Homo sapiens: one gene and its partner. The protein of the gene in region 2 purifies or fractionates together with the protein of the main gene of each other region. This does not show direct contact. Each region holds a gene or a part of one and is shown on either strand. Other genes may lie near its edges.

Region 1 (7,300 bases), on a different chromosome or scaffold from region 2:
CGTGCCACCTTGAACAGCAAATCCCAAAGGTTCTTCTAGGACTCAGCATTAGAACAGCACCTCTGGGCACTTCATGTGTCAACCTGGAAGCACTGTGGTTCAGAAAGCGGCGGTCCTCGCTAAGGTGACTTTTCCGCAAAATCTTTTGATATCTTTTGCTTTATCACACAGAAGAATGAAACGCCCGATACAAACTTGTCAGAAAAGGGCATTAATGTAAATGCATTGGACAAAATTCTTCACGATGCTAAATCCTTATTTTAGAAAAACACGTTTTCCCTCTGAGCCCAAAGAATATACAACACAAGGATGGGCGTGGTGGCTCATGCCTACAATCTCGGCACTTTGGGAGGCCAACGCGGGTGGATCACCTGAAGTCAGGACACAAGCCTGGCCAACATGGCGAAACCCCGTCTCTACTAAAAATACAAAAATTAGCTGGGCGTGGTGGTGCGCACCTGTAATCCCAGCTACTTGGGAGGCTGAGGCAAGAGAATCGCTTGAACCTGGGAGGCGGAGGTTGCAGTGAGCCGAGATCGAGCCACTGCACTCCAGCCTGGGCGAGAGTGAGACTCCGTCTCAAATAAAAAATAAAAAAATACACAATGCAATCCAAAACTAATAGGAGTCCTCTCTAAAGGGCACAACTTAAAAACTACAGTGGCAGTTTAACACAGTAAGGTCTGTGTTCTTCAGGCGAAAGCCTGGAAAGTTCTCTGATGTTTTCACGCAGTGCTATTTCCTAGAAAGCAAAACATCCAGCCCAACAAACTAGTACACACATCATTGACAAAATATGCTACTCCTCATTAACATTTCATTGCAGAACCGAAACAATAAATTAAGCCATACTAAATCAGCAGCATTTCGGCCCTGTGTACCACCGTTAGGTTTCTGGAACAAGCACTCCTACGTTTTTTAGCCTTTGGGGCTAAAGGAAAAAACAACATGTGTTCCTCGAGTTTACAAACCTCCAGACTGATACTTTATTGGGACTAGAATTACAAACACCCCAAGTTTTAAGGTCGGTTTCCCCTATAAAATTTATGATTAAGAACATAATTCCCATTTATAGAGTTTTCCATCCCTTGGGACGCACATCGCTCATATAAATCTCACGAAGCCCGAGTTTGGGCAGTAATCCAAACCGTCTTCACAAAAACACGGTTTGGGATGAGCAATGATTTCGGTGGGAAACGTAACAACTGAGCAGGAGTCAGCCTTCGAACACGATTCCAAGAAGTCTCCCTGCCCAAAAAGAGCAGGCGCTGGCCGCAAGTGACAAGAGACGAGAATTTTGAAGCCATCTTAGAGTTATGGGAAAGTTTGAATACCACTTTGACTTGGAAGGCGTTTTCAACAAAAACAACAAAGTCCTTTCCTCAAAAAACACCTCGCATTTAACACAGCCTCACCCCTACCAGGAAAAAAAAAAGAAAAAGAAAAAATCCAACTCACGAGGCATCCAGTTATTTTCCTACCTCCTATCTATTCCTCTCCTGGCTCCCAAAAAGGTGGGGAGGGGAATTGTGTGGCTATCACTTCCTTTTAAATTACTATCTTCTCAAGAGTTTTAAGGGTGGAAAAAAGTTTAAAACACCTTGTATCAGGAAGGCGCTCAGATTTAAAATTCCAAATGGTACTAAGGACACAAATCAGCCTCACATCCTAATGAAAAAAGTACTAGATTCTTACATTTTTGGAGGGCATGGGAAGGGGGAGGGGGTTCTGGGGGAAATGTGCAGTGATTAGGGAACCAGGGGGATCCATTTGCATTAATAAGGGACGGTGCCCGGCGACCCCGCAGCCACATGTTTACGCCTTTAAAACAATGGCATGAATATTTAAAGCAACGTTTAGCCCTTTCCTTCCCGGGCACATTTCCATGGTTTGGTTTTTTTTTTTCTTCCAACGAGCGTGGGGAGCCGGGGAGCCGGTCAGCGGGGTGGGCCCGGCGCGCTGCCCCGCCAACCCCGGACCTACCTCCCCGCCGGCCCCGCACAATGGGGCGCGCTCTCCAGGACGCCCGCGTCGGAGGCGGCCGGGGAGGGGAGCAAGGAACCCGGGGACACCTTCGGGCTCAGGCTCAGGCTCAGGCCCTCGCCGCCGCCTCGGAAGGCCCAGCAGGCCCGGGCTGCGGGCCGGCGGCGGGGCGGAGGCGGCAGCTCGGGGCCCCGGCCGGGCCATCCCTGTTCGGGCCGGCGGGAGGCGGCGGGAGCCGGCGGGCACCGCGCGTGCGGCCCAGGAGCCGGGGAGGACGCCGGGACGCACCCGCCCCGGGTCGACAGGGCCCGCGCGGAGAAAAGGGGAGGCGGGGAGGCCCCGGAGGCACCCCGCGACCCCAGGCCGGCCGCTCCCGCCGCGCGCACGGGCCGCCGCCGCCGCCGCGCAAAAATGTCGGCGGGCGAAAAAATTAACCCCTGCGTGGCCGCCGCCGCCCTCCCCTCCGCTCCTCCCCGCCCTCCCTCCCTCCTTCCCCGGCCCCGCGCGGCGGCGGCGGCGGCGCGGGCGGCGCTTCTTTTTTAAAGCGGCCCCACCAAGCCCGGCGCTGCCCCTCTCCAGGCAGGGCTGGCGGGGCCGGCGGCGCGCGGCTCCCCGGCGGTCCCGGGCGGCCCGGAGGGGGATTTGCAACGGCCGCCGCGGGCCTGCGGACCCAGATTCCCCTTTAAGCCTGCGCCTCCCCCCCGCGCCGGGCCCGCCGCTTACCGGCTCGCTTTGCGCCCTCCGCCTCCTCCCGAAAACGGGCCGCGGGCCGCTCCCACAATGCACCGGGCGCGGCCGGGCTCCCTTAAGCGTCGCCTGAATAAAAATGCCGCGCCCGGCGGCGGCGGCGGCGGCGGGGGCCCGGGCCCGCGCCTGGGCGCCGCGGGGGCTCGCCTGCCTCGGCGCGGCCCTGCGGGAGCCGGGCCGCCGCGCTCCCGCCGGCTGGGCGCGCGGGGGTCCTTTAAGGCCGGCCACCTCCCTTTAAGAGGCGGCCCTGGCTGCTGGGTGGCGGCGTGCGGCCCGGGAAGGGGGCGGGGGCGCCGTGCAGCCCCGAGCGCGGCAATGATTGGTCTCGGGGGAGGGGTGGGGGGTTGCAAACCCGAGGAGCGGTGGCATCCGTTGCATGATGCAAAAAAGGATTGATTTCAAAAGTTGCGAGTTGCATTGGCAGCCGCCCTTGGCGCCCGGGCCACCTTTTTCCCGGGCCCCGCTGCAAGGGCCGGGAACGTTTCCGCCACCTGGCCGGGCTCGACCGCGCGGCGCTCTGCGGGGCGCTGTCCCCGCTCCCCGAGTGCGCAGCGGAGCGTCCTGGAAGACAATGACCATGGGAACAATTTGCACAGGAGGCTAGGAGCCCAGGAAAAGCCGCCTGGGCGCCAGGCAGAGGTTTTTTGAAAACACAAACGGCGCGTTAGATGCTTGGGGACTCCCAGCATCTGTCCTTCCTATTGTTTAGCTCGGCTCCGGAGTTCACGGGAGCCTCGTGAAATGTGGAGACGTCCTGCAAAGTTTCTTGAACACTTCATGTGCGTGGTAGGAAGTCGAGGAAAAAGGTTTACGGTTCCCCGCTGGTTGCATTGTTTGTCCTGCACATGTTCGAGCGAACATGGCAGCCGCAACCCTGGATGTGTTCGAATTGACATCGAGGGGGGAGCTTCACGTCGTGAAATAACTTTTTTCTGGGCTTTCGAGATTCTAAAGCATTGCTGATGAAAATAAACCAAATACTTTCAGATATCGTTTAGGGCTTCTCTCTAAAACAGCAGTGTGCAGGAATGCCGATCGAACTTTTCTAGGCAGTAGGTCAGCATTTTCCAAATGTTATTTGGGAGCAGAAATGTTTTGGGTCACTGGACCGTGCTTTACGTGGCACGGCAGGTTGGCACGCTACGCAGATGCCCTTTTCGTTAACATTTCCGCTTGCCAGTTGCTCCGGGTTTTAATCCTGGGCTGGATGCAGAAGTGATGCCACCTCGAAGACAGGCTGCTCCTGTCTTTGTGTACTTTCTTCATACCCTGTAGTAAGTTTGCAAAGAACGTGTTAGTCTGCATTCTTTTATTTTATATTTATTTATTTATTTATTTTGAGACGGAGTCCCACTCTGTCGCCAGGCTGGAGTGCAGTGGCGCGATCTCGGCTCACTGCAACCTCCGCCTCCTGGGTTCAGGTGATTCTCCTGCCTCAGCCTCCCCAGTAGCTGGGATTACAGGCGCCTGCCACTGGAGGATGGCTTCTCCCAGAGGGGAAGACAGGGTCACGGTTCTCATTAAGAGGGTATTGTACTAGTCAAGCCCGGAGATGTACTTGAACTGAAAGCAAGGGGAATGCAGCCCAGGGAAGGGATTTGGTGTGATTTAGCACGTAGGAAGGAGAGGAAGAAGGATAAGATGACCCCCAGGTTTCCAGTTTGCGGGGGTGGGGGGTGGGGGAGGGAATGAGGAGCGATGCTAATAATTTATCTAAGAACTGCTGAAAGGCAAACAAGTTTCGGGGTGAGTTCAGCTTTGGAAATGTTAAATCTGAGGTCTGCCGGATGGTGTGGGGGTGGGGCTCAGAGTTGCAAATCTCAGGTCTGCCGGATATTCCAGACCAAAGTTAATAGGGAAACAGGTCCGGAATTTGGTGTGGGGATGGGGCTCAGAGATGCAAATCTGGGTGCCATCAGCATGTAAATGGTGTTCGAAGCCTCCGTAAGAGGTGAGATTAACCCCGAAGGGAGAGCTCAGGAAAAAAGTGAAAGAGACCTTGGACAGAGCTCTGCAGAACTTGGAAATCAAGTGGCTGGGCGGGACAGAGGCCGATCCCCGCTGCGTCGGTGGGAGGCCACCATCCTCAGAACCGACTCTTCCTCCCCGCCTCCACCCACCACGAGCTCACCGGGAAGCAGTTCTCTGCCGCAGAGGCCGTAAGCCACAGATGCCTTACTTCATCCAGGGCCACACTACAGCCTTGGCCCAGATCATCTGGCAGAGTCATGCATCCTTTTCTTTGCCGGTGATGAGAGCTTCTTCCTTGGGTACTGCTTTGAGCTAGTCCTACGCTCCCCCGCAACTCCCGGGCTCACCAGAACCCCATTCTAGGGAGCCATCCCCGCTGGATTCTCAGGCTCTGCTGGTTCCGTCCAAGAGATGGTTCTCCTGGGTTGCATTGTCTGGTTGGGGCTTATTAAAAATACCAGTTTACCGCTGAGCAGGGTAGCTCAGGGTGCCTGTAACCCCAGGGCTTTGGGAGGCCAAGACAGGAGGATCACTTGAGGCCAGGAGGTTGAGACCAGCCTGGGCAACATAATGAAACCGCGTCTCTACAGAAAATTTAAGAAGTAGTCAGGTGTGATGGCGCATGCCTATAGTCCTAACTACCTCAGAGGCTGAGGTAAATCATTTGAGCCCAGTAGTTCAAGGCTACATTGAGCTGTAATCGTGCCACTACACTCTAGCCTGAGTAACATAGCAAGACCCTGTCTCAAACAAAACAGAACAAAACAAAAAGAACTAATTTACCAGCTTCACTCACTTGAAAGATTACAGCTAGCAGATACAATGGGTTGAATTATGTCCACCACAAAAGGTGTGTTGAAATCCTCACTGCCCCCCATACCTGTGAATGTGGCCTTACTTGGAAATAAAATATTTGCAGATTTAATCAAGGTAAGATGAAGTCATACTCAATTGTGATATGCCCTAAATCCTATGGCTCATATTCTTAGAAAAAAAGGAATATTTGGGCTGGGCGTGGTGGCTCATGCCTGTAATCTCAGCACTTTGGGAGGCCAAGGTGGGCAGATCACTTGAGGCCAGGAGTTTGAGACCAGCCTGGCCAACATGGCGAACCCCATCTCTACTAAACGTACAAAAATTAGCTGGGCGTGGTGGCATATGCCTGTAATCCCAGCTTCTCGGGAAGCTGAGGCAGAAGAATCGCTTGAACCCAGGAGGCAGAGGTTGCAGTGAGCTGGGATCATGCCACTGCACTCCAGCCTGGGTGACAGAGCAAGATGTCTCAAAAAAAAGAAAAAAGAAAAAGAAAGAAAGAAAAGAAAAGGAAGATTTGGAGACAGCGGCACAGAGGAGACACAGGGAAGATGGCCATGCATGTGAAGACCGAGACAGAGGTTGGAGCAATGCAGCTACAAGCTACAGCGGAGGTTGCCGTCAGCATCAGAAGCTGGGAGAGGCAAGGAGGAATTCTTCCCTAGAGCTTTCAGAGGGAGCGTAGCCCTGCCGACACCTTGGCTTCCCGCTAGCAGCCTCCGGGATTTAAACTACCCAGCTTGCGGTCCTTTGTTATGGCAGCCATGGGAAAAGACTCCAGCAGGTCGGAGGTGTATGTGGTGGGGAAGGGATGTGAAGAATCCCCATTTTGCCAGGCTCCCTGGGTGATTCTGATGCTTTTGAAGAACACTGACCTAAGAATTCCACTTCCTCTGAAACCCAGAGGGACGAGAGGCTGCCTGTTCTATACCCCACATCCTGCTCACCCCAAAACAGAAAAGCAGCTCCAGTGACATCACCTTCCTGTCACCTGCCCTTCTCATTCGGGGCTCATGCCATCCAACACTGCCACCATCTGCTGCCAGAAGTGTCACTCCCCTGCATGGTTTGAATCATGCCCATTCAAAAGTGGCCCCTGCTCTGTCATCCCAGGGGATGGAGAGGGTCCATTCTCAGGAATAGCACCTGCTAGATGATGGATGTGCAAATCTGATGACCTTGACCTTAACTCCACTTTAGACACCCATTGTCTTGGCCGTGCTGTGAACCTTCTCGGCCCTGGAAATCTTTCATTTTTTATTCGTTTAGAGATGAGCTCTCGTTATGTTGCCCAAGGTGGTCTCAAACTTCTGGGCTCAAGCAATCCTCCCACCTCAGCCTCCTGAGTAGCTGGGACTACTACCATGCTTAGCTAACCCTGGAAATCTTAAACACCAACACCCTCTCCCCCGTCCCTGAGTCCTCTCCCTTCTTTACATAGGACACCCACACTCTAACTTCATGGGGGCCACCAGTCTCCTGAAGTGGATCCGTTTCATTCTGTTCAGCTTGGACCGTCTGAGGGTAGTTCTGCAGCCTCATCTCACCTCAACCCATTTCATTGACCATGTTCACCCCCACATGTCCAAACTTAAGCCCCTCTACCTGCCTTCTTTGTCCTTCCACTGGGCTGGAGGAAACTCAGAACTTAGAGATCCTGCCATGATGGGCATGTCAGCCCCCAGTGCCAGCCGGGCTTTTCTGACACCTCAGAAATCATTGAGTATGTTATTCCTGATGTTCATTATTCTCCCCAAGGGCTGGTTCACACTTTGCTGCCTTCAAG
Region 2 (5,737 bases):
GTCGGTGAAGAAGGGCAGATGGCATCCTCAGGCTAGGGCCACGGGCACAATTGTGAGCTCCAGCCTCCTGTGTTACAAGCTAAAAGAGGCTCCCCAGTCTGAAGAGATGAGCATGCTCAGACATTGGACTGCTTGGCAGGCCTCAGTAGTGGGCACAGGTTGGCAGGGAGCAAATGGAGCAGCCCAAACAGAGGAAACGCGGAGGAGGAGAGGCCCAGACAGACGGTGCTGTAACCCAGACAGCTCATCTCAGGGGCCCAAGGAGAATATTCTGATGTGCAGAGTTGGAAATCTGGATTTGTATGTGCAGTATCTTGATTCTGAATGCACTGGGCAGGCTGAACCAAACATCTTTGGTTTAAATTGGGCTCAAAGAGCCATTAGTTTGGCACCTCTCCTCCCACCCTCACAAAACAACAAAACAAGCAGAAAGAAGCATGAGCAGGAAAGGGCTGTCCTGGGGAACTACACTGGGGGTGGGGTGGGGGGAGAGGTTAAAATAAAGCACAAACCCAGATTCCAAAGTTCTGTATTTTTCAAAATAAAGATCACACATTGTTTAGAGACAATCTACACAAGAGTTACAAAAAATAGTTGCCCAGGCATAAGCATACACAGGTTTGTTAATTATACACATATGGTTACAAGTGTGCTTGCAAAAAAGTTCATTGGAAATATACACAAGGCTCTGGAAATGTACACCGTGTAGTGTTACAATTCTATATTCAAACAAGGAAAATTGACAGTATGTTACATTCACTTACAAGTAGACAAAATGCAAAATACAGTTCATCTTCTGTACAAAAGGGAAGGGCGATTCACACTTTACAAGGTGAGAGGGGCTCTGATTGTAAGGAAAGCTCGGGCAAGGCTAGACTTTTGCACGTCCTTTTGACTGTCACAAAATCAAAACATTACTTTTTTAGGATTAAAAAAACACTAGTGAGAACTCAATCTTGAATAACATTTAGAAAGAATCTCGCTATACTTGAGACTAGATGACAAATAAAACCAAGCTATTTTTTTCTTTTTAAACATTAACTAGGCTGTATAAAGAACATTTATTCCTTCAAAAGAAAAAAATTTACTTCTGGTTGAAATTACAATTTACAATATACAACACTATATGCTACGACCATAAAAGGTGAGAATATACACTGAATGCACAGGGCTGGCTAATTCTCTTTTCTTACCAAAAAACGTGTTTATGTTGATTCAAACTTCTCCACATTTACATTACAGGTATACAAATGTACAATTGTACAATCAAAAGTATGTTCGACTACTAGGGTACATTATAGATACAGATTAGACATCAAAACAAGAAAATACTACAAATTTGTATATATGCAAAGTCTACACCAAGTATACACTATATATTTATAGAAGCAAGACCAAAAGCAGAGTTGGATTTTTTTTTCTCATGCTAAATAATCAGATTTTACCTTTCAATGTTAATAGAAAAAAATCCAGTAGGCAGTAAACAATCACACCCGCCCAGCCTCAAAAGACGTTCTGGGTGCTCGCATCTCCTCCTCACGAACAGCCTTCTTCAGCATAATATAGTCTCCAAAAAAGGCATTTTTTAGAATTTCATAAACTTAATGTCACAAACTGAAGCTTTAGCAACTCTGAAACCTTTTTCATTATATATATATATATATATATATATATTTTTTATAAACAGTGTTAAATGCCAGTTTGGGGTCATTTAACTACAATTCAAACTTCTCAGGTTTTTTTGTTTTTGTTTGTTTTTTACTAAAATGAGGAGGTGGGGAAGAGCTATTTGCAAAACTTGCCGGCCAGGCAAATGAGCTAAAAACCTTTTCCTTTTTTTCTTTTTTTTTTAAAGCTTTTTTTTTTTGTTAAACCAACCACCCTGAAAGTTTCCACATGTGAAATATAGATACAACAGTGAACAAAATATGTGGCCTCCCATGTACATTGGTTACCTATGTACAAGTATCCTATACACCAGTAAAACAGCAGGGCAATTAGTCAATTAAAAAAAATAGTACATGTTATGTGTAATAAAATTAAATTTACAAAGGCTTTTCCACTCGTGGATTTGATTCCTTTTTTGGAGGAGGGAGTAATCCTGGAGCAACCACTTGCCCGTCTCAGACTCTACACTAGAACATTTCTGGTTGCTGGTTGGATTTGCCAGTGGGCCAGTGAGGTCAGCGGGAATGAGGGAACAGCGGGTGACACTGCCTCAGATGATACCATTAGGGGGGCCACAGATGGGCCCTAAGTCAACACCGTTCTTCATGTAGTACTTCTCCAGCTTGGCCAGAATGTGCTTGCCATAGGTGTACTTACGAAGAGTTGCGATGTGGGGCCGGATCTGGGGAGGAAAGACAGTCTGTGTTACATGGCCTGAGATGAGACTTGGGGGCAGGCTTCCCGGACATGCATTTGCATGTCATGCATCACACACACATACACACACACACACACACACACACACACACACACACACACACACACCCCTACAGCAATACCTTTCACTGGCTCAGCCCAGTCCCCTGACTTCTAGCACTTTGGCAACCCATCAGATGAGGAGAGGAGCTCCTACCCTGAGTGGTGCCACAGGGCCTGAGGACCCTGGAGGCTGGGTGGCCATGGGCCACTCCCAGGACAACACATGGAGAAAGTGCATCCTAGCTGGGAAAATACACTGCCCACTACCCGCCAGCTGCACAGTGCTTCCCTGCAAGCATGAGCACAGGCCCCTCTGGCCCCATGCACGGCATCCAGGCTCTCCTGAGCAGTGGGGGTTATTTCGGGTCACCAGAATCCTGAGCTCACCACTTGACCCTGTCTCTCCAGGTCACAGTGGATCACAGAAAGCTAATCAATGACAAGAAGAGAAATGATGAACATCATGAGCTGGTGTGATTATCCCCATCTTACTGACAGAAAACATGAAGGCACAGAGTAGTTAAGTCACTCAGCCAAGGTTGAATGGCTAACAAAGGACAGCACAGATAGCTGAGCCCAAACTGTGTGGCTCCTCCACGAATCAGGTTTCTCCCCACTGTGCTCTCAAGGCACGCCCGCCACACCAGCCTCATCCCTCAGGCTCTCCGACCTATGCTCTGAGTCACTTCTCCAAGCATTCCTTTCTGTTCTTCCTTCCCTGGGCTGATCATTTCAAGAAGTCCTACATTCCAGAAAACTTGAGAGGTGCTTCTTCTCTGGAAGCCCCTTTTCTTTTCTGTGAGCTCAGGGAGCATTCTACATACCTCAGCTGTGTCTGCTATCTTTTGCTTAATTATCAATCTTTCCATATAAACAGTAAAGGACCACAGTTTATTCATCAGATTCCCCATCCAAACCTGCACCTGCATACATAAACGCACTGGATAAATGTACCGCAGTAGACAGAGGCTCTCCAGGTTGAGAGCTCCATGAGGGCACCAATTTTTGTCTGTTTAGCTGTGTCCTCAAAGCAAGGAAGGGTTGATCCGGTCTAGAAATCACCTGCGCATGCTTCCCAGGACACAGAGCTGCATCGGGTGTCACATTCCCACTTTGGAGCCTACAGGGGAAACTGGCTGGTGGCAAACAGTCCTTGGTTCCAGTTTCACCTCCCTTAAACTCACCTGTAAAACGGCGTATGCAATAATGCTATACTTTCCTTTCAGTTGTAATACTATGTTACTAATGTTTCTGTCATGAGAACTTGAGGTTCAAGATCCCCTTGCTTTTGGTAGCTTTCCTTTTAGAAAATAACTGAAATCCAATCCATTCCTCTGTCCCTGGAACTGGCTGCTGACAAGTCCAGGCACTTCACCTTTGTACTTCCCCAGAACAAAACAAAACAAAAAACCCCTAACAAGCCACACACACACATGTTGAACTCCATTTTTTATTGGATTTAACAAGAAGTGAAACGTTAATTACCTGCTTCTCTCCTTATGTCCCTTTTGCTGAAAAGGATACCACTTAGTAATGGAAGAGCTGAAAAACTAAGAGGGCTTCTCAGGACTCTCCCCGTCAACTCCCTCAGCCAACCAACTGCTAAGCCCTACCAATTCTAGCACCCTATTCTGTCCACTTCTCTTCAATCCCAAACCACCACCATCTGGTGCCTTGACGGCCTCCCATGTGGTCTCATCACTGCCTCCCTCCTCTAAACTACAAAGGCCACATGGCAGCCAGGACAATTATTTGAAATATACGTGTGATTTTGTCACCACACTCCTCCTCCACTGAACTTGTTTTACTTCTTCAGATACAACACGGTCTGGTCTCTGGCGTCCAAGTCTTCACACACCACGTTCCCTCTTCTGGAAAGGGTCATCACTCTATTAAGTATCACTCCGTTAGAGAGCCTCCTCTGTACCCACACGTTATAGAAGACACCCTGCCCATTCCTGGACAACCCTTTCCCCTGTATTTCTCCAGTGTCCCAGTAACTATCTGTGCACAGCACTATCACGTTTACCAATACAACCCTGCTGAGAATACGACCTGCTGTACAACAGGTGTTTAGCACTGAATGAATGAATGAATAGACATGTCTTAAGCTCCTACTTACCTCCAACATTCCCTCTGCCTTCACCAGCATCCTGAAAACTTACAACTTTAAGAACCTGGGACTCCCCCAGCCTTCAACTGCCACTGCCAACACCAGTGCAGTGGTTTGGATTGGTTTAGCTTGACTCAGGGGTGGTGGGTGTCTTGTCTGGCTCAGAACTTGAGTCCATTAACAAAGATTCTCATTACCGAACTTTGTTCTCAGTGAGGGCAAGTGGGTCATCATTGCCAGACAATGGCCAACCAACCCCTCAATTGAGAAGGGCTCAGTGAGTTCAGAGCCCAAAAGCTGCAGGCTCAGATGAGAAGCACCGGAGGCTGGAGGCACTGCCCAGCACAAACACAACTGTAGCACACCCTGCCTGTGGGTCTGTTTTGCCTCCTGGGCCCTGTGGTGTCTGCAGTGCTCACTGGACCCACGCCGTGACTTGTCAAGAAGCTGTGGGCCTGTTCAGGTGACTTCTCTTTCAGTTCCCCACTCACAGCACCTAAGCATTCTCATTTCTGTTCCTTCTTCCCTGTCTAACTCTTCTTTAGCCTTGCCTTCTCCTGCAAAGCCGGCCCTCAGGGACTCTGGGAAGGGTGAGGGGTCCTTCTCATGTCCTCACCACTGCTCACCACCATGGCTCTTCCCCACCAGAATGTACTCTGTGGGCAGGGATCAGGTGTTAGTCATCTCTGTGCTGATGAAGTCTGGCACAGAGTGGGCTTCAGGTCAATGTACCAGGCTATGCACCATGCTGGGCAGGCCTTTGTTCAATAGATGTTGGTGGGATGAAAGAACAGAAGGGAGGAGTGAGAAAAGGAAATGAGGCAAGTTGATTTGTTGGACTCATAAGCTGATTCTCTAGAGATCAGGGATGGAAATATTTCAAAAAATGTAGCTTAAGATTCTCATACCAGTGTGGCTATTGATAAGGGAGGGTTGGCAAATGTGTAAGGACAATGGTGACTCCACATAAAAGAAAAACAGAACACAGCATGGGACAGAGGTCAGTGACAAACTCTTCAAAAACAGCAGGGCACCCACCCTCCTTTGTGTTTCAGAAAGGAAGCCAAGGCCTTGCACACTTTCTCTGAGACCCTGCCCAGCCCGGCCTACCTTATGCATGACGATCTTCCGCTGGCCTGGCTCCGCCACGTCAATCATCTTCTGGACCACGTAGTTGGCATACTGGTCCTTCATCAT

What was found. The genes of interacting proteins can lie anywhere in the genome.
Region 1: the proteins of PUM1 (region 2) and SEPHS1 fractionate together in Homo sapiens (co-fractionation; 2 studies listed by BioGRID). This does not show direct contact.

What each region holds. Positions count from the first base shown.
Region 1 is NC_000010.11:13,345,294-13,352,593, forward strand, and holds the start of SEPHS1 (selenide, water dikinase 1), read right to left. Parts: upstream 3,001-7,300; 5' UTR 2,707-3,000; intron 2,407-2,706; exon of another isoform or gene 1,984-2,406; intron 1-1,983. UniProt on the Homo sapiens protein: Synthesizes selenophosphate from selenide and ATP.
Region 2 is NC_000001.11:30,930,993-30,936,729, forward strand, and holds the end of PUM1 (pumilio homolog 1), read right to left. Parts: coding exon 5,651-5,737; intron 4,785-5,650; exon of another isoform or gene 4,697-4,784; intron 2,351-4,696; coding exon 2,219-2,350; 3' UTR 514-2,218; downstream 1-513. UniProt on the Homo sapiens protein: Sequence-specific RNA-binding protein that acts as a post-transcriptional repressor by binding the 3'-UTR of mRNA targets.